4 linked regions of the Homo sapiens genome follow. The protein of the gene in region 3 interacts with the protein of the main gene of each other region in a pairwise test. Each region holds a gene or a part of one and is shown on either strand. Other genes may lie near its edges. The genes, in order: RAMP1, HERPUD2, MS4A13 and ODF4.

What was found.
Region 1: the proteins of MS4A13 (region 3) and RAMP1 interact in binary tests that used the Homo sapiens proteins (3 or more experiments, as listed by UniProt).
Region 2: the proteins of MS4A13 (region 3) and HERPUD2 interact in binary tests that used the Homo sapiens proteins (3 or more experiments, as listed by UniProt).
Region 4: the proteins of MS4A13 (region 3) and ODF4 interact in binary tests that used the Homo sapiens proteins (3 or more experiments, as listed by UniProt).

What each region holds. Positions count from the first base shown.
Region 1 is NC_000002.12:237,862,606-237,869,630, forward strand, and holds part of RAMP1 (receptor activity-modifying protein 1 isoform 1 precursor), read left to right. Parts: intron 1-7,025. UniProt on the Homo sapiens protein: Accessory protein that interacts with and modulates the function of G-protein coupled receptors including calcitonin gene-related peptide type 1 receptor (CALCRL) and calcitonin receptor (CALCR). Required for the transport of CALCRL to the plasma membrane.
Region 2 is NC_000007.14:35,664,125-35,671,149, reverse strand, and holds part of HERPUD2 (homocysteine-responsive endoplasmic reticulum-resident ubiquitin-like domain member 2 protein), read left to right. Parts: intron 1-821; coding exon 822-935; intron 936-3,561; coding exon 3,562-3,716; intron 3,717-7,025. UniProt on the Homo sapiens protein: Could be involved in the unfolded protein response (UPR) pathway.
Region 3 is NC_000011.10:60,518,367-60,525,391, reverse strand, and holds part of MS4A13 (membrane-spanning 4-domains subfamily A member 13), read right to left. Parts: intron 1,496-7,025; coding exon 1,439-1,495; intron 186-1,438; coding exon 66-185; intron 1-65. UniProt on the Homo sapiens protein: May be involved in signal transduction as a component of a multimeric receptor complex.
Region 4 is NC_000017.11:8,335,140-8,342,854, reverse strand, and holds the start of ODF4 (outer dense fiber protein 4), read right to left. Parts: upstream 3,016-7,715; 5' UTR 2,804-3,015; coding exon 2,350-2,803; intron 1-2,349. UniProt on the Homo sapiens protein: Component of the outer dense fibers (ODF) of spermatozoa which could be involved in sperm tail structure, sperm movement and general organization of cellular cytoskeleton.

The sequences.
Region 1 (7,025 bases), on a different chromosome or scaffold from region 3:
GCAGGTGCCATGTGTAGTGTGAATTCCAGCGGAAATGCTGAGCCCAGAGAGTGAAGCCCCTCGGGCTTGCCTGCCAGTGCCCCTGCCAGTGCCCCCACCCCCAACTCAGGCCTAGAACCCCTCTTTCCTGACGGTCTTTGTGGTATGGTGGGCTGGCCCTCAGTGGTCTCTGAGCCAGGCCTGGCCATCCAGATGGTCCCAGGGAGGAGACTGGCCGCAGGCTGGACAGTCAGTGTTCTGCTGGAACCACGGGGAAAAGCTGCGTCTTTCCTCCAGGCTGGATCTGAGTGGGGCTGCCACAGTCTACCCTGTGAGCCATGGGGGAGTACCTGTCCATGACATAGAGCACTCCTGAAGCCTTTTGAGCCCCTAGATCGAGCTCATGGGGTACACATTTCCATCATGTGACCCATAACGTTTGAGATGGGTGTCTGTCCCTTGCAGGGACGGCAGGCTCAGGGGGCTCCGAGAATGGCGTACCTGGGGGACTGTGGGAATCCTGCCCAAGAGCCTCCTCCTCCACTGGGGACCCAGGGAGGCCTCCTGAAAGAAGAGGTGCTGCAGCCAGGAAGACAGTGGGAGCTGGGAAGGGGACAGGGGAGCCCGGGCTACAGTGGCCCTGGTGGCTCCAGCACTTGCTGGACCATGTGCCCACTGCCCCAGCCCACCAGTTTCTTGGTGGCAAATGAAGAGGCAGAGACGGTGCTGCCAGGGCACTGTTCAGTTCCCAGCCTGCCATACCCCCTGCCTACCTCTGACACATCCCACAGCAGACATATGAAGCCCTGGAGGGATGTCCTTGTCCCCAGTCCTCTCTGCTCCAGAACAGGAGGACTCTCAGCTGGGTGATGTTCCTGGAGGACCTGTTTCTCCTTAGTGAGGAGGATGCGTCAACACGGCCACCATAGGAGGGCTCCCAGCCCAAACAAAATCGTACTCACTTCACCGAATGATGTTATTCTGTTCAGGAAAAATATTTTTTTCCTAAGATGGTTTATTTCAGTAATTTCTGGGGCATCCGAAAGGCATCACTTTAACCATCTTTTAAATCACGGCTTCTGGGTGGCTTTGTTGGAGCAGGGTCCAGGGGGACACACTAGCCAGATGTGGCAGGAGTGCAGGGCTATGGGCCTGAGTCACAGGCCCCCCGACTCTACGTTCTCAGCTCTCTCGGTGACTCCTCCCCGTGCTCCGAGAGTGCTTCACTCCCTCCCATGTGCAGTCACATGGTGGATTCTCTGGGACCGAGAACCAGAATCCCAAAACCCCAGGCCCCGGCTGTCCACTGTGCCCTCCGCCAGGGTCAGCACCACCTCCACCCCTCACGGGGACAACTGCCCAGCCTCCCAGAACCCCCACCCCACCCACCACCCCAGGGACAGGGGGTCTTCCTCTGTGCCCCCAGCAGACCCTCAGGGTACGTTAGTGTCACCCCCACACATGCCATGTTCAGGCCCCCAGGCCTTGGCTCCGGGGAAGCAGCTCCTGAATTAGCTGAGAGTTCTGGGAAACCACGGGGGCAGGAGGGGAGGCAGAGTGACCTGGCCCGTGGCCTGGGCCAGCTCACTCCAGGGGGTGGGGTACAGCTTGCCCAGGAAGCCCTGCCCCCTGTTCTCCCGGACCACGTATCCCCACACGAGTCTCAGGAAGGACTGTCTTGAGTCTGACACCACCTGGGAGGAGAAAAGTCAGTGATTTGCCCAACCATGCGCGTGTTTGCTTCGTAAGGCCTGCCGCTGTCAGGTACCCTGGCCCCAGGCCGGGAGGGGAAGAAGCCTAGAAAGCATTGCCTCTTCAATGGACACTTGGTGACTGACACCCGGGGTGGCTCTCTCTGCAGGGATTTTCTTGCCTCTGGAGGAGACAGTTGTGAGAGGGAAGCGGGGGAGGTGGATGGATGAGGGAATGCCGGGAAAGCGCTGCACCGTTTCTCCTGGAAACACCCATCTGCCACCTCACACACGGGACACACAGGGTCAGGACTCTCACACACGTGGGACACCCAGGGTCAGGACTCGGAGGGGGCAAAGGACAGGGGTGCAGAGCAGCCTGCTACAGTAGGGTGTCCTACACAACCCAGGGCAGCTCCCCCAGAGGATGATCCCACACCAAATGTCCATAGTGCCAGGGTGGGGCAGCCCTGCTGCATGTCAACCATGTAGACATGTGGTGCTACTTAAATGCAGCAGGAAATAAACAGGAGACCACGGAGCACAGCCCTGAGGAGCAGCGGCAGCACAGTCCAGAGGGCAGAGGGCAAGGACGGTTGTGCAAAGGCCCTGCTTTGGAAGTTCCTGGAAGCCTTTTTGACTGAAGCATGGTGGGGAAGAGGGCTTTGAGCCGAAGCTGGTGCTGGAGGAAAGACCCATTCTCTAAGCATTCAGATCTCATTCCTAGGGCAGTGGGAAAACCTTGAAGGACATTAAAGGGGGTGACAGGACAGAAGGTGTGGTTTAAAGGAGCCCTCAGCTGTGGCCCCCAGCATGGGCAGGAGGCCAGGCAAGGATAGGAGTGGGAGGGTTCCAGGGAGTCCTGGAGGCGAAAGTGATGGACTCCAGTCCCTGGGCCTGGATGCAGGAAGTGAGGCAGCGCTGAGGAATGAAGAACAGCACCTGGCAGAGCTCCTGGGGGAGTAGGGAGGGCAGGGCAGGGGAGAAGAGAGGAGAGGAGGGGAGGGGAGAGCAGGGGAGAGGAGAGGAGGGGAGGGCAGGGGAGAAGAGAGGAGGGGAGGGGAGGGCAGGGGAGTAGAGAGGAGAGTGCAGGGGAGGGGAGATGACACCCCAGGCCACAGCCAGGGCTGCCAGGAAACATGGGAGCCCCAGGCAAACTGGAATTTCAGATAAACAAGAAGCATAAGCCTGTCTCATACAGTATCGGGAACATGCCTCAAAAACCACCGTTTCTCTGAGATGCAGATTTCGCAGGGCCTCCTGTCATTTGCTGCACCTGGCAGCCCCGTCCTCAGCAGCCACATGGGGTTCAGCGTTCCCCTTGGATTCTGAGGGGTGATGGTACGTAGACAGGAGTCTATGCAAATCAAGGGTTCAGAAAGAGGTATGGCCAAGAGAGGTGTTTCTGGCGGCAGCAGGGCCTGGCCTATGTCAAATCCTTGCTTGGAGGGGTGACCGGTGAGAGTGGGTAGAAACAGGCCCAGGCTCCTTGTGAGAGGCCAGAGAGGACGGCCAGGGAGGACAGAGAAGGAAACGGGCCCCAGGCACCACTGGGCACCTTGACATGATTGGTGGTGGAGGGAGGCAGATGGCAGGGTCCTTTGCAGGAGAGGCAGCGGCGAAAGCTGCCCTTAGGAGGCAGCGAGGAGGTGAAACCAGAGAGCATGCCTGTGTAGGTTTCCTCCAGTGCCTTATGGTTCTAAACACACAAACCTTTGATGCATCTGGAATTTACCTTAATTTCCTAGCAATTTTTATCAATGGCTCAATATTTGGGGGATTTTCATGGTAATTGCACTGAATGTATTAACTGGTCAGGGAGGATTACATCAAGACCACCGGCTCGAGAAACAGCAGTCTGTTCCTCCACCCCCACGTCTGCATCCAGGCCCTTCCACAGAGATCTCATTTCTCCTGCAGATGACTCATTCAGTGTCTAGGAATCCGGTGCTCTGTGGCCACTACCGAGAGTGGGATATTTTCCCCCATTTTATTTTCTAGCTGGTCATCGCTGGGCTAAGAGGAAGCTCCTCTTCTGTGTGTTTCTTTTGTGACTGTTGTCACCCTGTGCCTGTTTTTTATTTTAGTTTTTTTGCTTCCTGCTTGGTTCTTCAGGCCAGTCATAAGGTCACCCGTAACCTAGGGTGGTCCTACCACCTCTTAACAATTTTCCCTGTTTTGTTCTCCAGTCGTACTGTGTTGGAGAGTGACTCACTGCTGAGTAGGGGAGTGACAGCAGCTGCCTTCCTTTGCTGCTGGCGATGGCAATACAAGTGACCCTTGAACAACGCAGGGGTGGGGCGCCGAACCCCCACATGGTCAGAAATTCGAGTGTAGCTCTTGACTCCCCCAAAGCTTAACGACAGCCTACTATTGAGCAGAGGCCTTACTGATAACATTATCTGTGAGTTAACCCATATTTTGTATGTTACATGTATGTATACTGTATTCTTTTTTTTTTTTCTTTTTTTGAGACTGAGTCTCCCTCTTTTGCCCAGGCTGTAGTACAGTGGTGCGATCTTGGCTCACCACAACCTCCAACTCCCGGGTTCAAGTGTTTCTCCTGCCTCAGCCTCCCCAGTAGCTCAGATTATAGGTGCCCGCTACCATGCCCGGCAAATTTTTGTATTTTTGGTAGAGACGGGGTTTCACTATCTTGGCCAGGCTGGTCTCAAACTCCCAACCTCAAGTGATCCATGCATCTTGGCTTCCCGAAGTGCTGGGATTACAGGCGTGAGCCACTGTGCCCAGCCTATACTGTATTCTTATAATGAAGTAAGCTAGAGAAAAGAAAGTGTTATTAAGAAAATTAGACCCAGCATGGTATCTCACGCCTGTAATCCTTGCATTTTGGGAGGCCAAGGTGGGAGGATCGCTTGAGTCCAGGGGGTGGAGGTTGCAATGAACCAAGATCACACCACTGCAATCCAGCGTGGGCAATAGAGTGAGATCCCATCTCAAAAAAACCCACAGAAAATATATATACTTTTCATTAAGTGTAAGTGGATCATCCTAAGGTCTTCATGTTGAGGAGGCCAAGAAGGAGGAGCAAGAGGAGGGGTTGGTCTTGCTGTCTCAGTGGCGGCAGCGGCAGAAGAAAAGCTTCATGTAGGTGATCCACACAGTTCAGAGCCATGTGGTCAAGAGTTAACACCTTAAACCTTCTGTCTTTCTCCTTTGGGGCCAGATGCTTTTTTATTGTATTTTTGTGGGGGTGGGGGTGGGAGAGGGATGGAGAATGCATCTTCTTCCCGTGTGTAAAGTAAGCTTTTGTCCTGTGAAGGAAGAACCGTTCGATGTGACACAACAACCTGCCCAGCTGGACATTGTCTCAGTGCTGGCAGGCCGCTGGCACTGGCGAGGCTGTGACACAGGAGAAGTGGTCAGAGGCTGCGAACCTACCGTGTTTCTGGGATGAATGGAGCGTTTCCTCATTCCTGTGCAGCCTTTCGGCAGTCTCAGGTGTCTGTTGGCCACTGTTTGTTCTGAGTGTGGCTTCGTTCTTCCTGAGTGAGCTTGCTCTGTACTTTACCTTGGGAGTTTTATTACCAGCATTGGGTTTTCTTCCCAAGATACAGGTTGTGGACCCTTATTCTTTCCCTGTGTGCTAGGATAGTCAGGATGATGGAAATAAGCAGTTCCTTGAAGATCTAGAGGGTCTTCATTTTCACCTGCAAAACCACCGGGGCCAGGCTCCTTTTCATGGTGTAGAAAATTGGCAACCTTTTCAGTATCTTTCTGGTGTTAATTGGTCCCCTTGGGTTTTCTGTCTTTTTTTTTTTTTTTTGGATGGAGTCTTGCTCTGTCGCCCAGGCTGGAGTGCAGTGGAGCGATGTCAGCTCACTGCAACCTCCACCTCCCAAGTTCAAGTGATTCTCCTGCCTCAGTCTCTCAGGTAGCTGGGATTACTGGTGCCTGCCACCATGTCCAGCTAATTTTTGTATTTTTAGTAGAGATAGGGTTTCACCATGTTGGCCAGGCTGCTCTCGAACTCCTGGCCTTCGGTGATCCACCCACCTCAGCCTCTCAAAGTGCTGGGATTACAGGCATGAGCCACTGTGCCTGGCTGGGGTTTTCTGTGTCTTGTAGCAGTGATGTTGTTTTACATTTTCCTCTGAAGTTGTTCATTTTATCCACATATCATTATGTGAACAATTATTTTTCTAATTCCCTCTACATCTGTGAACATCTGTCCTTTTTAGTGCAATTTTGTGAATTTGTATTTTCATGTTATTTCTTGATCAGAATGGACAGTGGTTAATCTGTGATTGGTCTCTTCCCCACTGATTCCCTCCCCCCACCAAAAAAAAAAAACAAAAAAAAAAAAACAGTTCCTGAGTTTACTTACTCTACACTTTTTCTTGAATGCCTAACGCATTTCTTTTTGTTCTTTGCTGGCGTGGGAATGAAACGTCATCGGTTCTCTGCTTGGCAGCTTGGCTGGATCCCCTGAGTTTGCCTCTGCCTTGTGCTCATGGTTGATATTTTCTGGATTCTCTGTATTTGTGGTTTCTGTTTCCTCTTTAGCACGTGAATTGTTTGGAAGCAAGTTTTTACAAATCTCAGGGGCTCCGGCTTTTTGGTTTCTCTCCCGATACTCATTGCTAGTTTTATTGCACTGTGGTCGGGGGCAGAGCGGGAACCACAACCATGACTTAGTGTGCATTGCGGGTTCTTTCTTGGTCTTACAAATTTTTCGTGTTGTAAATGGCCCGTAAGCCCGTGGGAGGAGTGTGGCGTTTTTATGTATCCATCCCGGTCATCATATTAAATTTAATACTTAGGGCCTCCGTATCCCTATTTTCATCTTCTCCATCCATGCGCATTGTGTGAAAACCCTGCACTGCGTTTGTGATCCTGCCTGCTTTCCCTGGGCACGTGTTGCTGCGTGTTCACGCAGGGGAGAGGATGGGGAATTCCATATGTGACCCTGCCAGTCACAGCTGCATGGTGACTTCTTATAGCTCTGTCCCAGTCATTGCTTTTTTAATTTTAATTGCGGTAAAGTATACACCACATAAAATGTACCATCTTACCTATTTTTAAGTGTACAGTTCTATGCCACTAAGCACACTCACGCTGCTGTACAACCATCGCCACTATCCATCCCTAGAAGTTTTTTCATTTTGCAAAACTGAAACTCTGTCCCAGTTAAACACTAACCCCCTGCTGATTTACCACCTCCCCCAGCCCCTGGGACCCACGATTCTACTTTCTGTCTCTGACTACTCTAGGAACCTGTATTAGTGGAATCATACAGCATTTGTGACTGGCTCATTTCACTTAAGGTTCTTCCATGTCGTAGTGTGAATCAGAATTTCCTTCCTTTTGAAGGCCAAATAATATTCCACTGTT
Region 2 (7,025 bases), on a different chromosome or scaffold from region 3:
ATAGTTTCTAGTAGCTTTGTTTCCCTTTCTCCCCATTTGGTTATCTTTCTTTCTGCTCCTTTTTCTTTGTCATTCTGTTCTTTTCTTTTTAAAAAACTAGCTGACTCATCCTTCATTGTTCTCTGTCCTCCTTTATTCCTTCTTTCCTTTCCCCATCTTATTTGCTGGCTTTATGTCTAAGTATAAATAAATATGCTTATGATCTCACTAAGCTAAAATGCCAACCCTAATCGTTATTTGGAATATTTTTCTTCAGTCATATTTCTAGGTTTATGGAAAAACATGGGATATTTACAGAATATAGTTTAAATGTATGCTTTATATCTGCGTATAGGTGTTATAGATAAAAATAGTTTTTGACTGAAAAAAAGAGTAAAAAAAATCACCTTGCTAAAATTAAGGCAAATGTGATTATGATGAAGTTATTTGAGTTTATTTTATAGTTGCTAAGCCTCAAGTGATGGAAATATGTAAACTGTAAAAAGTTTAAGGTGCTAGATGTTTTCATGCTGAAATTATAGATTGTGCTGTTACAACTTTCACAACATTGTTTGCTTTAAGACTGCTTCGTATGCAAAATAATTTTTTAACCCAGCAATTGCAGAGTATTTAGATCATTTTCCAAGTATGGAGAAAATATTGAATTCAAAAGGATCACAAATAAAATGACAAATTTACCTTCAAATGATAACAATTTATCAGTAATTAAATGGCTAGGCTCGAAAGGGACCTAAGTTTTAGGTATTTCAGTTTAGCTACTGACTTTTTGAACTGTACATTTTGTAGTACTACCCTTTAAATGTAATCTTCTTTAATTTTAGCAAGATGAGTATCATATGGTTCATCTAGTATGTACTTCTCGGACTCCTCCCAGTTCTCCAAAATCCAGCACCAATAGAGAAAGTCATGAAGCATTGGCATCCAGCAGCAATTCTGTGAGTTGTTTTGGGAGGAGTAAACATTGAACTTTTCTTTTTTTTTCGTCGTCGTCTTATTTTTTGCCTCTAAAAACTAAATGAAAAACAGAACAATTGGAGCTTGTGAATTTTGAGATTGTGTTTTGAACTAAAGTTAGGCATTTTGTAAAGTTTACCATTTTGAAAGATCTAATACGCAGTGTTATCCCTTGAAGTCTATTCACCTTGAGTTATAATTTGCTGTATGGCAGGTCAGTAATAGATTTAATCTTCAAAGGTTTAATTACTGGAATACTCAGAAAACGGAATTATGTTACGGTTATATAATATAAACTCTTAGGCCAATGACGTTTCAGAAATATGCCAGGTATTTAAAATAGTATATTTTATTCAAGGTGGATTAAATTGTTTAAAATTTAAGTACCCTAAATCTTCTTGAAGTAGATGACTTGGTCAAGGATTTTGTTTTTTAAAAATGACTGGATTTGGGTGTACATTCCACCTGCTTGGGGAGGAAATACTTAATGTATTAATCTCTTTCAGACTTGGGTATTCATTCCTCCATCCTTATTTTTCCATCTGCCTAAAATTGTTTTGGAAATGTTTTGTAATAGTTGACCTTCTCAATTTAGACATTTTCTACAAATTTCAAAAACATTGTCCCCAATCCTTTTATGTTATTTTTGATTTCCCATAAAAGCTTTCTATGACACCTTTGCAGGTGAGAGGATTGGATGAGTGGAAGCTTGCTTTCAACTTCTTGAGCAGTCAGGGAACTTTTCTACTGCTAAGTATGCTTTCCTTGTCAAGACTCCAGCCAAAGCTTGAAAGAGAGCACAAGTGACAGGGGTGGGAGCTAGTTGAAAACTCTCTCAATAGATACTAGTTAACTGCTTCTTTAAGAAACTAGCTTCTCCAGTTGCTGTATTTAATTTGTATTCTCTTAATGGTAACTATTTCCTAGTACCAGCCATGGGAATTTAGCTTACATTAAACTAAATAAAATATGCCTTGTCAAAACACCCAAGGGTCTTTGTATGTTTCCTGCCTTGGCATGGAAAGGCACAGACATTGGCATTGGCACAGAGTTTTTTTTTGTAGTCGTCGGACACAGTTGCATTGCTTCAATTTTTGTTGGGAAAGAACCCTCTGACTTTGACTTGTCCAGTGGGTTGCTCAGCCATGATTTTGTGTCATTAGTGTGTATATTTGTTTTTTTCAGTGTTATGAAAGCCTGAAAAGTATCAAAGGAATGTTAAGTTGAATTCACCTTAATTTTTCATGGTTCAGAAATTTCAAGGGACTTGAAAATATTTTAAAGATCTAATCATAAAATAATTACCTAATAAGGTCAGAAATCATTAGTTCTAGAGAAATTAGGTTGTGCTGCCAAATGACTAGGCTTTTCTTCTAATAATTGTATTAATGAACACCGTATTATGATGGCCCATTTAATGAGAAATCTTGCTGAAAAAGAAACCTTTCCCAGTTTATGTTCCTAAGAATCCGGACTCCTTAGTAAGATATTTGATATCTATTGTGTGTGAAGTAACATTTTAAAAGTTTTTGTTAGTCTTGCAAAAGACTGGTGTGGACTGTTTTGCAAAAGACAGTTTTGGACCTTTCACATTGCAGGACTTAGCATGGGAGTCATGCAAAAAGACATCCTGTCAATAGGAAGGCAGTACGGGTAAAATACAATTTAACAAAATTGTTAAAGGAAGGATGTTAAAATAATACTGTACCTAGCTTTTTAAAGTGGAAGAACTATAATTTATGTAAAATGTAATTGTGTTTTAAATGTACATGAAACACTTGACAAACTATTTTCAAACAAATTGGGATGGTCTTCAGGGAGTTATATTGTTTATGGTTACTGAATCCATGAGCACGAGAATAAAAAGATTTGAGCATGAGAATAAAAAAATACTGATTAACATCTTGATTCTCGTAGTTCATTTTGTAAAAAAGCAATATTTGTTGGTGATTTCTATAAACTAATAGAATTCTAGAACTGAAAGGAATCTTGAAAATTTAGTCCAATCTCATTTTCTGTAGGAAAGTGGAAACTCTGAGAGGTTAAGTGAACCTTTAAGGTTATAACTCTTGTTAATGTCAGAGATAACACTAGATTTTAGATCTTTTGATTTCTAGGATTTCTAGCCTGTTTCTCATTACTTTAAATCAATATGTTAACAATAGCATGTTGTACAGTACTTGGCACATAGTAACTGTTTAAATGACTCAGTAATTAGTACCATTTATTGAACACTTTCAATAAATGTATGTGTTAGGCATCATGAAAGGAGCTTTGCATGCATTAATTTAATCATGTGAAAAGAGCTTTTTATGCATTAACTTAATCCTCAGAATTTAATATGCTGTTTTTGTATATTATTATTCTGCTCCTCGGCCATTTCTAGTTGAAAAAATGGAATATTTTAGTTTAATTAAGCAGTTTTGATAAGTTTTGACGTACTAAAATTAAAATATCTACTTATACTGGACACACGATGTAAAACAGTAAATTTCTGAAATGTTATTTTGCAGAGGGATTTCATGAATACGTTTTTAGTAATGTGCCTGTAATTTTATGATTGTAAAGAACTAAATCTCCTTTTAAAAATTACATTTTTATTTGTAGAGTTCAGATCATTCAGGATCAACAACTCCATCATCTGGTCAAGAAACCTTGTCTTTAGCTGTGGGTTCTTCCTCAGAAGGATTGAGGCAGCGTACCCTTCCACAAGCACAAACTGACCAAGCACAGAGTCACCAGTTTCCATATGTAATGCAAGGGTAAGTGAAATTGTGGTAGCTATGGAATGTGATTGGGGCCCCCTAAAAATGAATTGCTTTTGAGTTTCACTATAGCCTCTTTGCAGTAATTAAAGTACATTTTAAATTTATTCATATATTTGATTTTGTATTTTGAGAACTAGAGGGTTAAGAAGAGCACTGCTTTTCAAACCTGGCTGCACATGAGAATCATGTAGGGCAGTGCTTTCAATCTTGAATGTTTGTCCTAATCACCGGGAGACCTTGTTGAGCTGCAGGTTTGTATTCAATAGGTATGATGGGGCCTGAGAATCTGCATTTCTGACAAGCTCCCAGATGATGCTAATGCTTCTGATGTTTGGACTACACTTTGAATAGCAAGGATCTACGTAACTAATTTTTTTTTACTCAGTCTCACTATAGATCTACTCAATTTAGTGTTTAGGGGAATGTGGTTGAGTGAAGGTATACTTGAAAGAGTACAGAGCCCAGCAATCTGTTTTTAAAAGTTTTTAAACGTTCCACAAGTGTTTCTAATCAACTTGGTAACAACTGTGCTAGAGTAAAACCATGATGTATTACAGGGATATGCTAATCTTGCTGCATGTTGTCCAGAATCTTTGTTGTATTGAGAGTTTTATAAAGCAGTTTTCTTAAGAAGCTTGCCATAGTCACCCTATATTTAGCAATTACAGCAGGCCCCTTGGGTTAGGCACTTCCAGAGGAAATGCAGCCACAGGTAAAGCAGCTTAGAGAGTAGGATCTTGGAGAACATGGTTTGGACCAGGGTTGTGTGTGAAAGCAGACTGTTTTACTGGGGTATTATTGTTTGTTATTTTTGAGGTAAAGGAAGCTTGAGTAACAGATAGTGATAATTTCTGTGTTGCGTATCAAGCCATGGGGCTGCAGTGTGTGGCACTGGTCTGGATCCATGATGATGGAGCTAGAAATGAGAATATGGCTAGGACCTCAGAATTGTAATGTAGGTGGTGTAACCAAGGAGTAGCTATTGACTGCTGTGCTCAACAGGACGGCATAAACACTCAGGTACTTTTTACTTAGAACTTTAAACTTAATTCAGTTATTAATACAGAAAAACAAAGCTGAATATATAGCAAATAGAAGAGAACTAATTTGTCTCAGATTTCTTAAATGTGAAGCCTTTTCTTTCAAAATAAATGTTTAGATGAGGCTGGTTGTAGACTTTCATAAAGTACCTGTGAAACTATTTTTGTTTTCAGAAAGTGATTACTATTAATATAAACCAAGATTTACTTGTAAAAAGCAGTGTTCTCAGGGTTTATATTATGGAACAGTAGCTTCAAATACTTTGTCTTATGACAGTAATTCACTTCCTTTCTTTTTCACAGAGTAAGTTCCTCTCAGTTTATACAGAGTGATTTTACTTATTTTATTTGGTGGTAGTGGTGGAAGGTGGGAGTATTATAAATAAGCCTGGAAAAATATATAGTGCCACATTAATAGTGGTTATCTCTGGATAAAATTTATAACTCTTTCTCTTACTTACAGTGAATATATTTTGTAATAAACAAATCAAGCTTATAAGATTACAGGTCTTCAGAATAAGACCATAGATACATTGGTAAAAGATTAATAATTTCTCTAAACTAGGCTATTGAGAAAATTAATAAACATAAAAGACAAAAGCATTCAGCTCTTCGAAGTATATTAAGCTGATTAGAAAAATCTGAAATAGGTGGCGCCAAGATGGCCGAATAGGAACAGCTCCAGTCTGCAGCTCCCAGCATGAACGATGCAGAAGATGGGCGATTTCTGCATTTCCAACTGAGGTACCAGGTTCATCTCACTGGGGCTTGCCAGACAAATAGGTGCAGCCCATGGAGCAGGGCGGGGCATCGCCTCACCTGGGAAGCGCAAGGGGTCGGGGAATTCCCTTTACTACAAAAGGGAAGCCGTGAGAGACTGCACCTGGAAAATCGGGATACTCCCACCCTAATACTGCACTTTTCCAATGGCCTTAGCAAACGGCTCACCAGGAGATTATATCCCGCGCCTGGCTCAGAGGGTCCCATGCCCAAGGAGCCCTGCTCATTGCTAGCACAGCAGTCTGAGATCAAACTGCAAGGCGACAGCAAGGCTGAGGGAGGGGCATCTGCCATTGCCGAGGCTCGAGTACATAAACAAAGTGGCCAGGAAGCTCGAACTGGGTGGAGCCCACCTCAGCTCAAGGAGGCCTCCCTGCCTCTGTAGACTCCACCTCTAGGGGCAGGGCATAGCTGAACAGAAGGCAGCAGAAACTTCTGCAGACTTAAATGTCCCTGTGTGACAGCTTTGAAGAGAGTAGTGGTTCTCCCAGCACTGAGTTTGAGATCTGAGAACAGACAGACTGCCTCCTCAAGTGGGTCCCTGACCCCCGAGTAGCCTAACTGGGAGGCATCTCCCAGTAGGGGGGCGACTGGCACTTCATAAGGCTGGGTGCCCCTCTGAGATGAAGCTTCCAGAGGAAGGATTAGGCAGCAACATGAGCTCCTTGCCAGCAGCGGAACAAAGCTGTATGGAGAATGACTTTGACGAGTCGAGAGAAGGCGGCTTCAGACAATCGGTAATAACAAACTTCTCCCAGCTAAAGGAGGATGTTTGAACCCATCACAAAGAAGCTTAAAAACCTTGAAAAAAGAGTAGACAAATGGCTAACGAGAATAAACAGCATAGATAAGTCCATAAATGACCTGATGGAGCTGAAAACCATGGCACAAGAACTACGTGATGCATGCACAAGCTTCAGTAGCTGATTTGATTAAATGGAAGAAAGGGTATCAGTGATTGAAGATCAAATGAATGAAATGAAGTGAGAAGAGAAGTTTAGAGAAAAAAGAGTAAAAAGAAATGAACAAAGCCTCCAAGAAATATGGGACTATGTGAGAAGACCAAATCTACATCTGATTGGTGTACCTGAAAGTGATGGGGAGAATGCAACCAAGTTGGAAAGCACTCTTCAGGATATCATCCAGGAGAACTTCCCCAACCTAGTGAGGCAGGCCAACATTCAAATTCAGGAAATACAGAGAACACCACAAAGATACTCCTCGAGAATAGCAATTCCAAGACACATAATTGTCAGATTCACCAAAGTTGAAATGAAGAAAAAAATGTTAAGGGCAGCCAGAGAGAAAGGTCTCATTACCCACAAAGGGAAACCCATCAGACTAATAGCTGATCTCTCGGCAGAAACTCTACAAGCCAGAAGAGAGTGGGGGCCAATATTCAATATTCTTAAAAGAATTTTCAACCCAGAATTTCATATTCAGCCAAACTCAGCTTCATAAGTGACGGAGAAATAAAATCCTT
Region 3 (7,025 bases):
GATTTCAAAATTATTAAAAAGAATAATTTTAAAATTAATATGTTCCCATAGAATTGGTCACTTACTGCTTGTCCATAATTCCTGTATGACACAGAATTAAAATGAGACAACTCTATTATTGTTAGAGTTACTGCAGTAATTGTAGTAATTATGCAGATGATGTTTATGATTAAAGTACTTATAATCTGAAAAGGAGACAGAGGGCAAATTTATTATATTCAGAATAAACATTTTGGTGTAATAGTTTGCATTGCTGAAAAAACTCATCTAGTTAAAACTTTGATCTAGTTTCTGAAGTCTTAGAAGTATTAAATATTAAGAAAATATTTTTCTGATTTATATGAAGCCCAGTTAATCTGGAGGAAACATTAACACCATCAGTCCATTAATCATTAATCTTCCATTTAGGCTAAAACATATTGTATTTTTTGGGGCCGGGCGCAGTGGCTCACGCCTGTAATCCCAGCACTTTGGGAGGCCGAGACGGGTGGATCACGAGGTCAGGAGATCGAGACCATCCTGGCTAACACGGTGAAACCCCATCTCTAGTAAAAATACAAAAAAATTAGCCGGGCTTGGTGGCGGGCACCTGTAGGCCCAGCTACTTGGGAGGCTGAGGCAGAATGGTGTAAACCCAGGAGGCAGAGCTTGCAGTGAGCCGAGATTGTGCCACTGCACTCCAGCCTGGGTGAGAGAGAGAGACTCCATCTCAAAAAAAAAAAAAAAAAAGTATTGTGTTTTTCAATGTTATAGGTCATTTGGAAGAAAGCATATAAGATATGATTTGGACAAAAGTGGTTCCACTGTAAGAAAAAAAAAAAAGTGGAAAATGACTGCTTGTAGAAATAGGAGTCAGTTGATAAAATTTTAATCCTGGGTTTTCATTATCTAAGGAAATCTATCAGTATCTTCAGACATCATTTTTTTATCTGTAAAATTATGAGGGCAGACTAATTTCTAAGGTACGTTTTAGCTCTAAGATTCTAAAGTGTTCTTCCCAATTCTATCCACCTATACCATGCATGGATCTTTAATCTGGACCAATTCTGTACTTTGTTACAGGACACAATCTTGTTCCCAAACTGGATAGTTCAGAAAATGAAGTTTTACAGTAGTATAATGTCTATATCTAAAGGCATTAGGTCCTATTAAAATTTTTTAATTATAAAGTTTACACAATGTTAAAAGGCAGAACATCAAACAAAACAAAAACTATATATACATTTAGAAACCTATACATAAAGTAATCATGATTTTAACCAATACAGTATATTTGTCTATATTAAATTATGTTCTTCTAGATTCATTCTTAATTCTTTCATTTACTTTACAGGTAGGGTAGATTCCTTCATTGTTTAGACGTTATATTTTCATTAAAACTTAATATTTAGCTTTGTGATAAGTGATTTCTAGAGATACCTCAAACATTTCAACTTACTCCAGATCGAGTCGGATACTTTGTTACTCTTATTAGGAAGACTCCTGCAATGATAAACTGGATATAAAAACATATTTATAAATACTCATTGATAATGCTTGCCAATTTAGAATGTACTTTTAATAACTCTCTTGTAAGTCAATTATTTTAAGAATGCTAATAGTAACAAAATATACAGAAGTTTTAGTAGATGGGTCAGGACAAATTTACATCATGTAGTAATACATTGAAAGGTAATAGTAGAGTCACTCATAACAGAGACACATAGGGGACAGTGGGCAGATTCACACTGTGATAATATGCCAGACAGCCTAAGCAGTCCTGACCGGGAACCAAGTTTGCTTTTATGTGTATGAGATACATCATATATAACTCATTTGATTATTGCTTTTAATGTTATCCTTCCTAATGAGATGATGACACTACTTATGATTACTATGTACATATCCAAATATGGAAAAAGTGGTTCAAGAATCTATTCCATATTGTGATGGTACAAAATATGCAGTCTCTTTTATGAGATTGTAGTCATTATTAAGGTAATGGCAGAAATTCATGCCTTTGCCTTTGTTTTTTAAAACAGAGGTTCCATTATTTCATGTCAGGAAGTCTGTCTACTTCCAAGAAGTATAAAACTATGCCATATTGTTTGAAGATGGGTTGCACAATTTCCTCAAAGTATTCCTTATTTGTTTTATTGATAAGACACTAAAGATCCAAGTCAAAGGCTATTTTTGTCATGCTATACACTATATGTAGGAAGCCCAAACCTGAAGCTTACAAACTTCCCATGGATAATTTTAAATCTATTTGTTCAGCACTTCATTCCACAACAAAAGCTGAGATTTCTAAGGAGGTACACAGTGAACGTAAGAACTAGCTCAGAATTTAAAGTGAAAATATCTTGTGAATTTTGAATTAGAGTGCTCTCTAATGAGATTATCTTTCGATTACTATGTGTTTTACAAAATGCCTTTCAAAGTTTAGGCTTAAGTGAGAAGTTTAGTATTAAATTACATTTAGTTGAAATTTTAGATAAGTTATCCTAGGAGTTTAATATACTATTTTTATAATATGAGTGGTCAAACACTAAGGAAAATGCATCATTTATTTGGATTTTGTTGGAAAATCCACAGTTTTTCTCCTCTTTTTTAAGGTAGTGCTTTGACACTTGTGACCCAGTGCATCATTTATCATTTATCACCTATGAACCAGTGCATTATTTATGAGCCATTCATCTTTTATGAACCATGTATCATTTATCTGGATTTTGTGCAAAAATTCAATATTTTTCTCCTATTTTTTCAAGGCAATCCATTGACACTTATGAATTAGTGTATGTATAAAAGTGGGAGACCTCCTAGAGATCATTGTTTCTTCTAGTGATTAATTGCTGTCTCAATGGGCAGCCATATTGTATCCTACAGCCCTCATTCCATCTGTTCGAAGTGTGGGATAAGTGGTTTCCTTGCTCATTATTGCTATCCAACCATTCTTTCTCCTCCACCTTTGAATCACATGTCAGTTTCTATAACTCACTATCCTTCATGGTTTAAGTAATCTATTGACCCCTTGGCCATTCCTCTTTTCGAATGAATTGAAATTTTGACTCTCTGATTCTCTCTCCAACATCACTTAATATTTGGTGATTTTTACACACACACACAAACACACACATACATATATATGTGTGTATATATCTATATATATACATCTATCTATCTATCTATCTATCTATCTATCTATCTATCTATCTGTCTGATCTTTTGATATGGTTTGGCTCTGTGTCCCCACCCAAATCTCATCTTGTAGCTTCCATAATTCCCATGTGTTGTGGGCGGGACCCAGTGGGAGATAATTGAATCATGGGAGCGGGTCCTTCCCATGCTGTTCTTGTGATAGTGAATAAGTCCTATGAGATCTGATGGTTTTAAAAATGGGAGTTTCCCTGCACAAGCCCTCTCTCTTTGCCTGCTGCCATTCATGTAAGATGTGACTTGCTCCTCCTTGCCTTCTGCCACAATTGTGAGGCCTTCCCAGCCATGAGAAACTGTAAGTCCAACAAACCTCTATCTTTTGTAAATTGCCCAGTCTCAGGTATGTCTTTATTAGCAGCATAAAAATGGACTATTACAATAAATTGGCACCAGGAGTGGGGTGCTGCTGAAAAGATACCCAAAAATTTGGAAGTGACTTTGGAACTGGGTAACAGGCAGATGTTAGGACAGTTTGGAGGACTTAGAAGAAGACAGGAAAATGTGGGAAAGTTTGGAACTCCCTAGAGACTTGTCAGATGGCTTTGACCAAAATGCCAATAATGATATGAAAAATGAAATCAAGGCTGAGGTGGTCTCAGATGGAAGATGAGGAATTTGTTGGGAATTAGAGCAAGGTGACTCTTGTTATGTTTTAGCAAAGAGACTGGTGGCATTTTTCCCTAGAGATTTGTGGAACTTTGAACTTGAGAGAGATGATTTAAGATATCTGGCAGAAGAAATGATCTAAGCAGCAAACCTTTCAAGAGGTGACTTGGATGCTGTTAAAGGCATTCAGTTTTATAAGGCAAGCACAGCATAAAAGTTCAAAAAAATTTACAGCCTGACAATGTGATAGAAAAGAAAAACCCATTTTCTGAGGAGAAATTTAAGCCAGCTGCAGAAATTTGCATAAGAAATGAGGAGCTGAATGTTAATTCTCAAGACAATGGGGAAAATGTCTCCAGGGCATGTCTGAGATCTTCATGGCAGCCCCTCCCATCACAGGCCCTGAAGCCTAGGAGGAAAAAGTGGTTTCATGGGCCGGGCCCAGGGCCCCTGTACTATGTGCAGCCTAGGGACTTGGTGCCCTGAATCCCAGCTGCTTCATCTGTGGCTGAAAGGGGCCAATGTAGAGCTTGGGCCATGGCCTCAGAGGGTGCGAGCCCCAAGCCTTGACAGTTTCCATGTGGTGTTGAGCCTGCGGGTACACAGAAGTCAAGAATTAAGGTTTTGGAACCTCTGCCTAGATTTCAGAGGATATATGGAACTGCCTGGATGCCCAGCGGAAGTTTGCTGCAGGGGCGGGGCCCTCATGGAGAACCTCTGCTAGGGCAGGGCAGAAGGGAAATGTGGGGTCGGAGCTGCCACACAGAGTCCCTACTGAGGCACTGCCTGGTGGAGCTGTGAGAAGAAGGCCACCATCCTCCAGACCCCAGAATGGTAGATCCTCTGACAGCTTGCACCGTGTGCCTGGAAAAGCTGCAGACAACGCCAGCCTGTGAAAACAGCCAGATCAGGGCTACACCATGTGAAGCCACAGGGGTAGAGCAGCCCAAGGCCATGGGAGCCCACCTCTTGCATCAGCATAACCTGGATGTGAGACATGGAGTCAAAGGAGATCATTTTTGAGCTTTAAGATTTGACTGCCCCACTGGATTTTAGACTTGCATGGGGCCTGTAGCCTTTGTTTCAACCAATTTCTCGCATTTGGAACAGCTGTATTTACTCAAGCCTGTACCCCCATTGTATCTAGGAAGTAACTAACTTGCTATTGATTTTACAGGCTCATAGGTGGAGAGGACCTTGCCTTGTCTCAGATGAGACTTTGGACTGTGGACTTTTGAGTTAATGCTGAAATGAGTTAAGACTTTGGGGGACAGTTGGGAAGGCATGATTGGTTTTGAAATGTGAAGACATGAAATTTAGGAGGGGCCAGGGGCAGAAAAACTCCCATTTCTTAAAACCATTAGATCTTGTGAGACTTATTCACTATCATGAGAACAGCATGGGAATGACTCGCCACCCCCCCAGCCTCATGATTCAGTTATCTTCCACCAGGTCCCTCCCACAATACTTGGGAATTATGGGAGCTATAAGATGAGATTTGGGTGGGGACACACAGCCAAACCATATCATCTTTCTATACCTTGGGCTTGTGGTTCTTGTTCTCTCCTCCAATCCCTGACTCCAAACTATCTTAGTCACTCACTCCCATAATCATTCTCTTGTCCTTGTTGTACCTTTCAAATCTTAATTTCAAGTATTCCACCTGATCATCACCTGCTATCTTTCTAGCTCATGCCCTCTAGTATTAAAATTCTAACAACCCTTTGACCCCACCTGGGTCTATAATCTGAGAACTTCAACTCTCTGTTAAATTCTTCTTTCCATCACTAACTTAAATTTCATGGCCAACCATTACAAACACTGCCCTATATCCACTTGCAATTGCTTTGCACCTTTCTTGTTTTATTATAGTTGCACAGCTAAACAAAGATCCTGATTGTTTTTATCCTACTGCATGGTTGCACTCATGCAGCTGAACATGGCCTGAGGAAGGCATACAACCCATATTCATATCCTGTTCCTAAACCTCAAGTATGTCCTTAATGCTGTGTGAAAATAAAACCACCTCTCCATAATCTGTGCACTCTCACTTTTCCTCGATGATTATTTCATATTCTCTTGCCTTTCCTCAAACAACCAAACCACTTCCCCATACTCAATCTCAGCTCATAATCTTGCTTCCTAATTCATTGAGCTATTTGAAGCTACTGGAAAAAAAAAAAAACTTCCACAGGCTTCCAACATCCTATCAAAGAAAACTCTCCTTTCTCTGCCTTTCCCTTCTGTTTTTGTACTTTGAAACCATTTATAATTAGACTGGATAATTCTTTGTTGTGAGGTGCTGTCCTGTGGATCACAGGCTATTTAGCAGCATCTTTTGCCCCTGCCCATCTGATGTACATCTCCAGCGGTGAAAATCCAAAATATCTCCAGATATTATAAAATGTTATCAGGGGCAAAATTGCCTCTAGCTGAGAACCATGCCCTAGATAAACTTTCTATGCTCCTAGCTATTTGTGCATCAAAATCCATCACCTCTTGCCTACACAAATACTTGATCCCAATACCCACCCCCATTTACTCATATCATCAATTTTCTTTCTTTTGGTTCAGTCCTCTCAACAAAGGATATGATGCTGTTTCTTTCAACTCACAGAAACTAATAAGCAAACCCTCTCTTGAGCCAAGTTTCCCCAGCTATCACCCCATTTCTTTATACCACATTACAGTAAAGTCCTTAAAGAAGCTCCTGTTTGCTGTCTGTAATTCCTCTCTTCCTATTTTTTTCTTAAATCAACTCCTACCAGGTTTTTGCTTCACAATTCCACTGAAACTACTTGTAAAATTTACTACTGACTTCCATATTGCTAAATCCAATGGTCAATTCGTAGTCCTCATTTTATTTGACAAAACAACAAAATATAATATAGTTGATCCTTCCTCATTTCTTCTAACAATTTCTTCACTTGGCTTCCAGGATATCATGCTCTCCAGGTTTTCCTCTACCTAATGGCTATCTAGAAACCACAGGAGAGTGTTAGTAATGAAAAATTTAGAAAATGAGTACTGACTCATTGGGTGAGGAGACTGAAGTGAAGATAATAAACATGCAAGTTAATCATGCTAATGGATATTATAGTTAAGATTCTTTGCCTTTCACATATCTAGGGACAAACTGCCCTATGGTTGTCATTGTGTACTCCTGTATCCATATCTCTTGAAACAGCACTTGTAAATTAAAGGTGCTCAATATATATTTGTTG
Region 4 (7,715 bases), on a different chromosome or scaffold from region 3:
AGCTTCAAGGTGGGAGGATCACTTGGGCCCAGCAGTTTGAGGCTGCAGTGCAATAAACTACAATCACACCACTGCAGTCCATCCTGGGTGACGGAGTGAGACACTGTCTCAAAATAAAAATAAAAATAGATGCTTGTCTCTGAATAGAGTGTCTCTGGAAAGAAACAGGAGAAACTAGGGAGGGAGACTGGATACTAAGAGATAACAGACTCACTTCAGTATACAATCTTTTGTATTCTTTGAATTTTCACTGTTTATACACACCTAATCCTAATTAAATAAATTTTAAAAATCAGTGATGTTTGGCCGGATGCGGTGGCTCACGCCTGTAATCCGTGAGCCGAGGCACTTTGGGAGGCCGAGGCAGGCGGATCATCTGAGGTCAGGAGTTCAAAACCAGCCTGGCCAACATGGTGAAACTCCGTCTCTACTAAAAATACAAAAATTAGCTGGGCATGGTGGTGGGCGCCTGTAATCCCATCTACTTGGGAGGCTGAGGCAGGATAATCGCTTGAAACCGGGAGGCAGAGGTTGCAGTGACCTGAGACCGCAACTGCATTCCAGCCTGGGCAACAAAGCAAGACTCTGTCTCAAATAAATAAATAAATAAAAATAAAAAGCCTGGCTGTCTTTGAGTAACTCCGTAGAGCAAGGCGCCTATGTGAGTTTTAGAGCCAGGCACACCTGAGTTGCAATTCCAACCCTGCCATTATTAGGTTGATCCATGTGAAATTCTCCTTTTGTAGGTGAAAAGCAGTCAAATATTAGCATGTCATTTGGTTCAATCTAAATAGCTTTATGACCCTGAGCAAGGTACTTAATCTCTCTGAGTCCCAATTTTCTCATCTCTAAAATAGGGATAATTATCCCTATCCCTTAGGATTGACTAAGGACTAAATTGAACAAATGGAGTAAGTGTACAATAAAGGATAGCTTTTGTTTCCCCAAATTTATTATAATAAGGACATAATATTTTCATAATGCTTTCATAATTCATTATATGAATATTTTCATATTCATATGATAAGGACATAATACTTTCAGAAAATAATAGCTGTGTGATTTTTTTCATGCTAAGGAGAGTGAAAAAATGGAAATAAGGGTCAAAAGCTCTGGTTTTCCCCAGGAGCAGGGAAAGAACTCCAAATTCCTGAGGGGTGAGGGAACAGCATAACCAGAGACTAACAACAATAAGAACCAGGTGTGGTGGCCACGGCCTGTAGTCTGAGCTTCTCCGGAAGTTAAAGCAGGAGGATCCCTTGAGCCTGGAAGTTCGAGGCTGCAGTGAGCTATGATTGCACCACTGTACTCCAGCCTGGGTGACAGAGTGAGACCTTGTCTCTAAAAAAATCAGCGAAACAAACAGAAAAAAACAAGGATGAGGAATGAAGCAGCTGCAAGAATTCAGGGAAAGAAGGAACACAGAAGCCAGATGTGGAAAAAGGAAAATGATCCAGAAAAGCAAGGCCTGAGGCAGAAGGAAAGGAGAATGTGTGGGATCAGGGCCTGAGAGGGGACATTGCAAGGAGTCCTCTCAAAGCTCTGGGTACACAAGACTAAGGAAACCCCCATCTCACTGGGGCTCTTGTCCCTGGTAAATTAGGCGATTAATGAATGATTCTCTTGTGCTGAGTCCATGCCCCTCGTAACTTTTTTTTTTTTTTGAGACAGAGTTTTACTCTTGTTGCCCAGGCTGGAGTGCAATGGTGCGGTCTCGGCTCACCGCAACCTCCACCTCCCGGGTTCAAGCAATTCTCCTGCCTCAGTCTCCAGAGTAGCTGGGATTACGGGCATGTGCCACCACGCCTGGCTAATTTTTTGTATTTTTAGTAGAGACGGGGTTTCACTATGTTAGCCAGGATGGTCTCGATCTCCCAACCTTAGGTGATCTGCCTGCTTTGGCCTCCCAAAGTGCTGGGATTACAGGTGTGAGACGCAGTGCCCAGCCTGATTTTTTTTTTTTTTTTTTTGAGACAGGAGTCTCACTAAATTGCCCAGGCTGGACTCAAATTCTTGGGCCCAAGCAATCCTCCCACCTCAGCCTCCTGGATAGCTGAGACTACAGGTGTGCAGCACCATGCCCAACTCTCTCACAGCATTCTTAGAAGCACAGATTTGGCTCTGGGTTTTATCAAAAGCAGTGACATTTTCCATTGCACCAATCAAATCTATTTAGCCAGGCTACAGGATGAGAAACGATCATCGGAGGTCTCAGTGCCAGTGGAACCATCTTGCAGGCCAAAAAGTAAAGATGACCAGAAAGAGGGAACAAGAATACATCCAGGGTGCAGATACAGAGGCCAAGACAGGCTGGCGGCCTGGGCTGGGATGGGGGGTGGAGGGGCTCACCTTTCCCATTCTCTAAGTCAGAACAGCTCCTGGATTTGTAAAAGTGCAGGAGCCCCATGGACATAACGTGGGCTGATGTGTGGATTCTGTTGCTGACATCCACGGGCCAGCGCTGGTAGAAGAGGCTCCTAGAGAGGTCCAGCCATTTCTTGGAGAAGGCCACGACCAATAGTAGGATAAAGGCAACCAGGCTGAGCTCAGAGGCCAACACCTGGGCCATCCAGCGGAAGCTGTGTGTGATTCTCCATTGAAAGGGCAGCGGAGAGTTCTGGCGCTGGCCCAAGGACCTGTTACTACTGAGGGAGAGGGTGGAGGACAGCAGTCTCCCATCTTGTCCCAGCTCACCTGTGCCCCATCCTGCCTCCCCACTCTTCCTTTCCTTTCCAGGTCTCTGATGTTGGTCTCTTTCTCCTTCTGACCTGGGGAACTCATTCCCAGAGTACTCTGCATCCATCTTGAGCACCACTTCACCCTCTGTCTCCCCTTTCCCTCACCAGACTCAATTGTCTCTTCTCATCTTTTGGATATTTTCATCAGCTGCCACCATGCAGCCTGAGGTCTGAGAAAGAATGAGGAAGTCTAATAACAGACCTCGATCAAATAAGAGACTCTTGATCCAAGAGAAGGCCCCAACCCATTCAGCAGGCCAGGTCCCCTAACTGCCACGGAATTTTCCTGGGGCACAGTGAGATGGGGGAGGGAAGCCAAGTCTTCAGCAATTTTTTTTTTTTTTTTTTTTTTTTTTAGAGAGAGAGACAGGGTCTCCCTCTATTGCCCAGGCTGGGATGCAGTGGCACAACCTTGGCTCACTGCAACCTTGAACTCCTGGGTTCAAGTGATCCTCCCACCTCAGCCTCCTGAGTAGCTGGGATTACAGGATTGTGCCAGCATGCCTGGCTAATTTTTCAATTGTTTGTAGAGATGGGGTCTTGATATGTTACCCAGCCTGGTCTCAAACTCCTGGCCTCTGCCAGGCACGGTGGCTCACGCCTGTAATCACTGCACTTTGGGAGGCCGAGGTGGGTGGATCACCTGAGGTCGGGAGTTCGAGACCATCTTGACCAACATGGAGAAACCCCATCTCTACTAAAAATACAAAATTAGCTGGGCGTGGTAGCACATGCCTGTAGTCCCAGCTACTCAGGAGGCTGAGGCAGGAGAATTGCTTGAACCTGGGAGGCGGAGGTTGCGGTGAGCCGAGATCGCACCATTGCACTCCAGCCTGGGCAACAAGAGTGAAACTCAGCCTCAAAAAAAAAAAAAAAAAACTCCTGGCCTCATGAGATCCTCCCCACTTGGCCTCCCAAAGCACTGGGATTACAGGTGTGAGCCACCTTGCCTGGCCTGTGGCTCCAGCTCTAACTCTTTCCGGAAATCCTGTTTCTCAGGCCACAGCTCAGAACTGTGGATCTGACACCTCCCTCCAGCTTCTGCCTCCCTTTACATATGAGCAATGGTATGTGAGAGGCCCTCCTGTGGTCTGCATATGGTTAATTTGTCTTCACCAAACCTCATGCTGAAATTTGCTCCCCAGTGTGGTGGTGATGGGAGGTGAGAGGGCCTAGTGGGTGGTGTTTGGGTCATGGGGGCAGATGCCTTGTGATTGGATTAACGCCTTCCCTGAGACCTCACTCCATTAGCTCCCCGCAATAGCTGGTTGTTAAAAAGAACCTGGCGCTGTTACCAAGCAAAAGTGCTCGCTGCCAGATGTGCATAGAAGCCAATACTCCAATACTAGGGCACTAGGTTTTGAGAAAAGGAAAGCTTTATTGTGAGCTGACCCACGAGGATACGGGAATCCAGCTCAAATCTGTCTCTCTTTGCTGGTCTTAAGGCAGTACTTTTATTAGAAAAGGTTTAGGGGGAGGATTCTGGGATTAGCGGGTGATTGGTGGAAAGAAAGGAGAAGTCTAGAAAGTCCTTAATCATGTCTGGTTATCTCCAAGGTTCTTCGTGGGTTGCATGTGCAAATTTGGTGGCGTTAGTATGAAACAGCAGGTGGAAATTCAGGCTGTGACATCAGCAAGCTCGTTCTGTGCGGATTGCTGTCAGCCATACGGGTTCCCACTGATTTCAGCCAGTCCTGTTATAAGCAAAGGGATTTTTCAGCATTTCAGCAAGCTGTTTCTTAGCTGCCATCCTGTAAACTCGAAAATGTCTGTTAATCACTGGTTTATTTAACTGTTTGGGGCACAGTTTCAGCTCCTCCCTTACCTTGTGATCTCTGCACAAGCCAGCTCCCCCTTGCCTCCACCATAAGTGAAAGCAGCCTGACGTCCTCAACAGATGCCCAATCTTGAGCTTTCTGGCCATCAGAATTGTGAGCCAAATAGCCCTTTTTTCTTTATAAATTATTCACCCTCAGGTATTCTGTTATAGCAACACAAAATGGACTAGGACAGTCCCCTTTTCTCTTCCTAGTTCCTCTGCCCTAACCCCAACCCCAAATGCTCACTGATGGAGCAGGGGGAGGGAGCAGGAGCTTATCCCCAGGAAAAGATCCTCCCTCCATTGTTCTTTGGACATGTCTTGCAAAGATGTCATCGAGCTTCCCATTGCTTTCCCCAACCCTTCACCTCCCTCCCAGCTCTACTCACTGCTAGTCAATCACCACCAGTTCCTTCCCTCTTCTTTTGACTTTTCTTTTTCCTTTCTTTTTTTTCTCAGCACCAGAAAGAGGAGGATGTAGGATGAGAATGGGTCCTAGAGGTGTCATGCCTTCTGAGATTGTTATAATTTTATTTATTTATGTATTTATTTATTGAGACAGTCTTCCTTCATCACTCAGGCCAGAAGGAGTCTCTGTCTAAAAAAAAAGAACATAGGCTTTGGGGTCCAACAGGCAAAGGTATGAAAAATGGGTCTTCCCCGCCTTTTTTTTTTTTTTTTTTTGAGATGGGATTTCACTCTTGTTGCCCAGGCTAGAGTGCAATGGCGCCATCTTGGTCAGCTAACTGCAACTTCCGCCTCCTGGGTTCAAGCAATTCTCCTGCCTCAGCCTCCCAAGTAGCTGGGATTACAGGAATGAGCCACCACGCCCAGCTAATGTTTTGTATTTTGTAGAGACAGGATTTCACCATGTCAGTCAGGCCGGTCTCAAACTCCTGACCTCAGGTGATCCACCTGTCTCAGCCTCCCAAAGTCTTGGGATTACAGGTGTGTGCCACCACATGCAGCCGGGTCTTCCTCTTAATAGCCCTGTGAACCTGGATGTCATATAGCTTCCTTATGCCTCAGTTTACTCATCTGTAACACAGGAACAATATTTTTCTCATAGACTTGGTAAGAGTGCTGAATGAGATAATGATCAAAAAGCACTCACTAGTTCATAGTAAATTCCCAGCAACTGGTAATTATGTTGTTAAATTATCATTTTAATTGTTTTTACAGTCTTTCACTAGCAAACAGGGAAAGAGCAAAAATGCAGAAGATAATTCCTGGCAAGCATCCTTGCCAGTCAGTGGCATCTGCAAATCATGGAACAGATTAACTCTCCAAATTAACTCTCCTTGTAAGCAAAAGGAGAGTGAACTATGAATCCTGATGTCACCTGTGCAGTGGGACCTCAGGAATGGTTGAAAGTTGAAATTCAAAGCCTGTGAGGGCGCTTCTTCTGGCTGTGGTCTCTGCCCCTCCCTGGGCGTCTTCCTCTGTCTCTGCAGACCAGCCTCTTCCTCTGCTCTGGTCCACATGGTGGGAAACATGGCCCTCACACTCCAAGCTGTGTATCAGACCCCTCCAGCTGCTGGAGGGGAGACCTCTCAGTCCCAAGTCCAAGCATTCTCTGGCCCTGCCAGGGACGAGTGTCATCCTTAGAACAAGCAGCTACAGTTGGGGCACTGGGTCAGAAGACAGAATCTTTTTTTTTTTTTTTTTTGAGACAGGGTCTCACTCTGTCGTCCAGGCTGGAGTGCAGTGGTGCAAGCTCCGCCTCCCGGGTTCATGCCATTCTCCTGCCTCAGCCTCCCGAGTAGCTGGGACTACAGGTGCCCACCACCACGCCTGGCTAATTTTTTGTATTTTTAGTAGAGATGGGGTTTCACCGTGTTAGCTAGGATGGTCTCGATCTCCTGACCTCGTGATCTGCCCGCCTCGGCCTCCCAAAGTGCTGGGATTACAGGCATGAGCCACCACACCCAGCCAGAAGACAGAATCTTGAAGATGGGAGAAGGAGGGGAGAACACTGGGAGAGGGGGTGGTGGGCCTGCTGGGAATGTCATTTACACAGAGCCAGTGTCGTCAGGATTGGGCTTCCTCCCTCGAATCCTCTTTAGTTTTTAAGTTTTTCCTGGAGTTTCTTTTTTTTTTTTTTTTTTTTTGAGACGGAGTCTCACTCTGTCCCCCAGGCTGGAGTGCAGTGGTGTGATCTCAGCTCACTGCAACCTGTGCCCCCACCGGTTCAAGCAATTGTCCTGCCTCAGCCTCCCAAGTAGCTGGGATTACAGGTGCCCGCCACCACGCCCAGCTAATTTTTTGTATTTTTAGTAGAGACGGGCTTTCACCACGTTGGCCAGGTGGGTCTCAAACTCCTGACCTCGTGATTCACCCGCCTCGGCCTCCCAAAGTGCTGGGATTACAGGCATCAGCCACTGCACCCAGCTTTTTCCTGGAGTTTCTAAGGGTTTTTAATAATAAGCATTTCTCACAGCAACACACAACACAGAAGAATCTTGGAAATAGAATGTTTCCTGAAAAATGTAACCCCCAGAAGACTACACAGTACATATGATGCCATTTTTATAGAGCCTATAACCAAGCTCAACAACCAATGCATTGTTTAAGCTTATGTAAGCTTATGATTGCATGGTAGTTTTTAAAAAGCAGTGGCACAGTAAACATGAAATATCATATGATGGTTACTTCTCAAGAAGGCATAGGAGTGAGATGAGGAATGTTACACGAGCACATATGCATTATTAATAAGAGTCTAGTTCCTGAGTTGGGTGATAGGTGCAGGCATATTCTTTTTTTTTTTTTTTTTTTTTTTTTTTTTTTGAGACAAATCTCGCTCTGTCACCTAGGCTGGAGTGCAGTGACACTATCATAGCTGAACTCCTGAGCTCAAGCAATCCTCCCACTTCAGCCTCCCAAGTAGCTGGGACTACAGGTGTGGTGGTGCACCTGGGCTCAAGCGATCTTCCTGCCTTGGCCTGGGATTACAGCTCGTGCTGGGATTACACGCACAAGCCACTGTGCCTGGCCAGGTATTTATTATATTATAATCATTTACAGCTAACATAGATTTCATAATATCTTGTGAATGTATCAAACATTGTCTTTCAGAAGGTAATTACAAATAGTTCAAGAAAGGAAATGTAATCTAAGTGATTACTAGCTCTGCAACAAAAGATATTTATATAGTCACA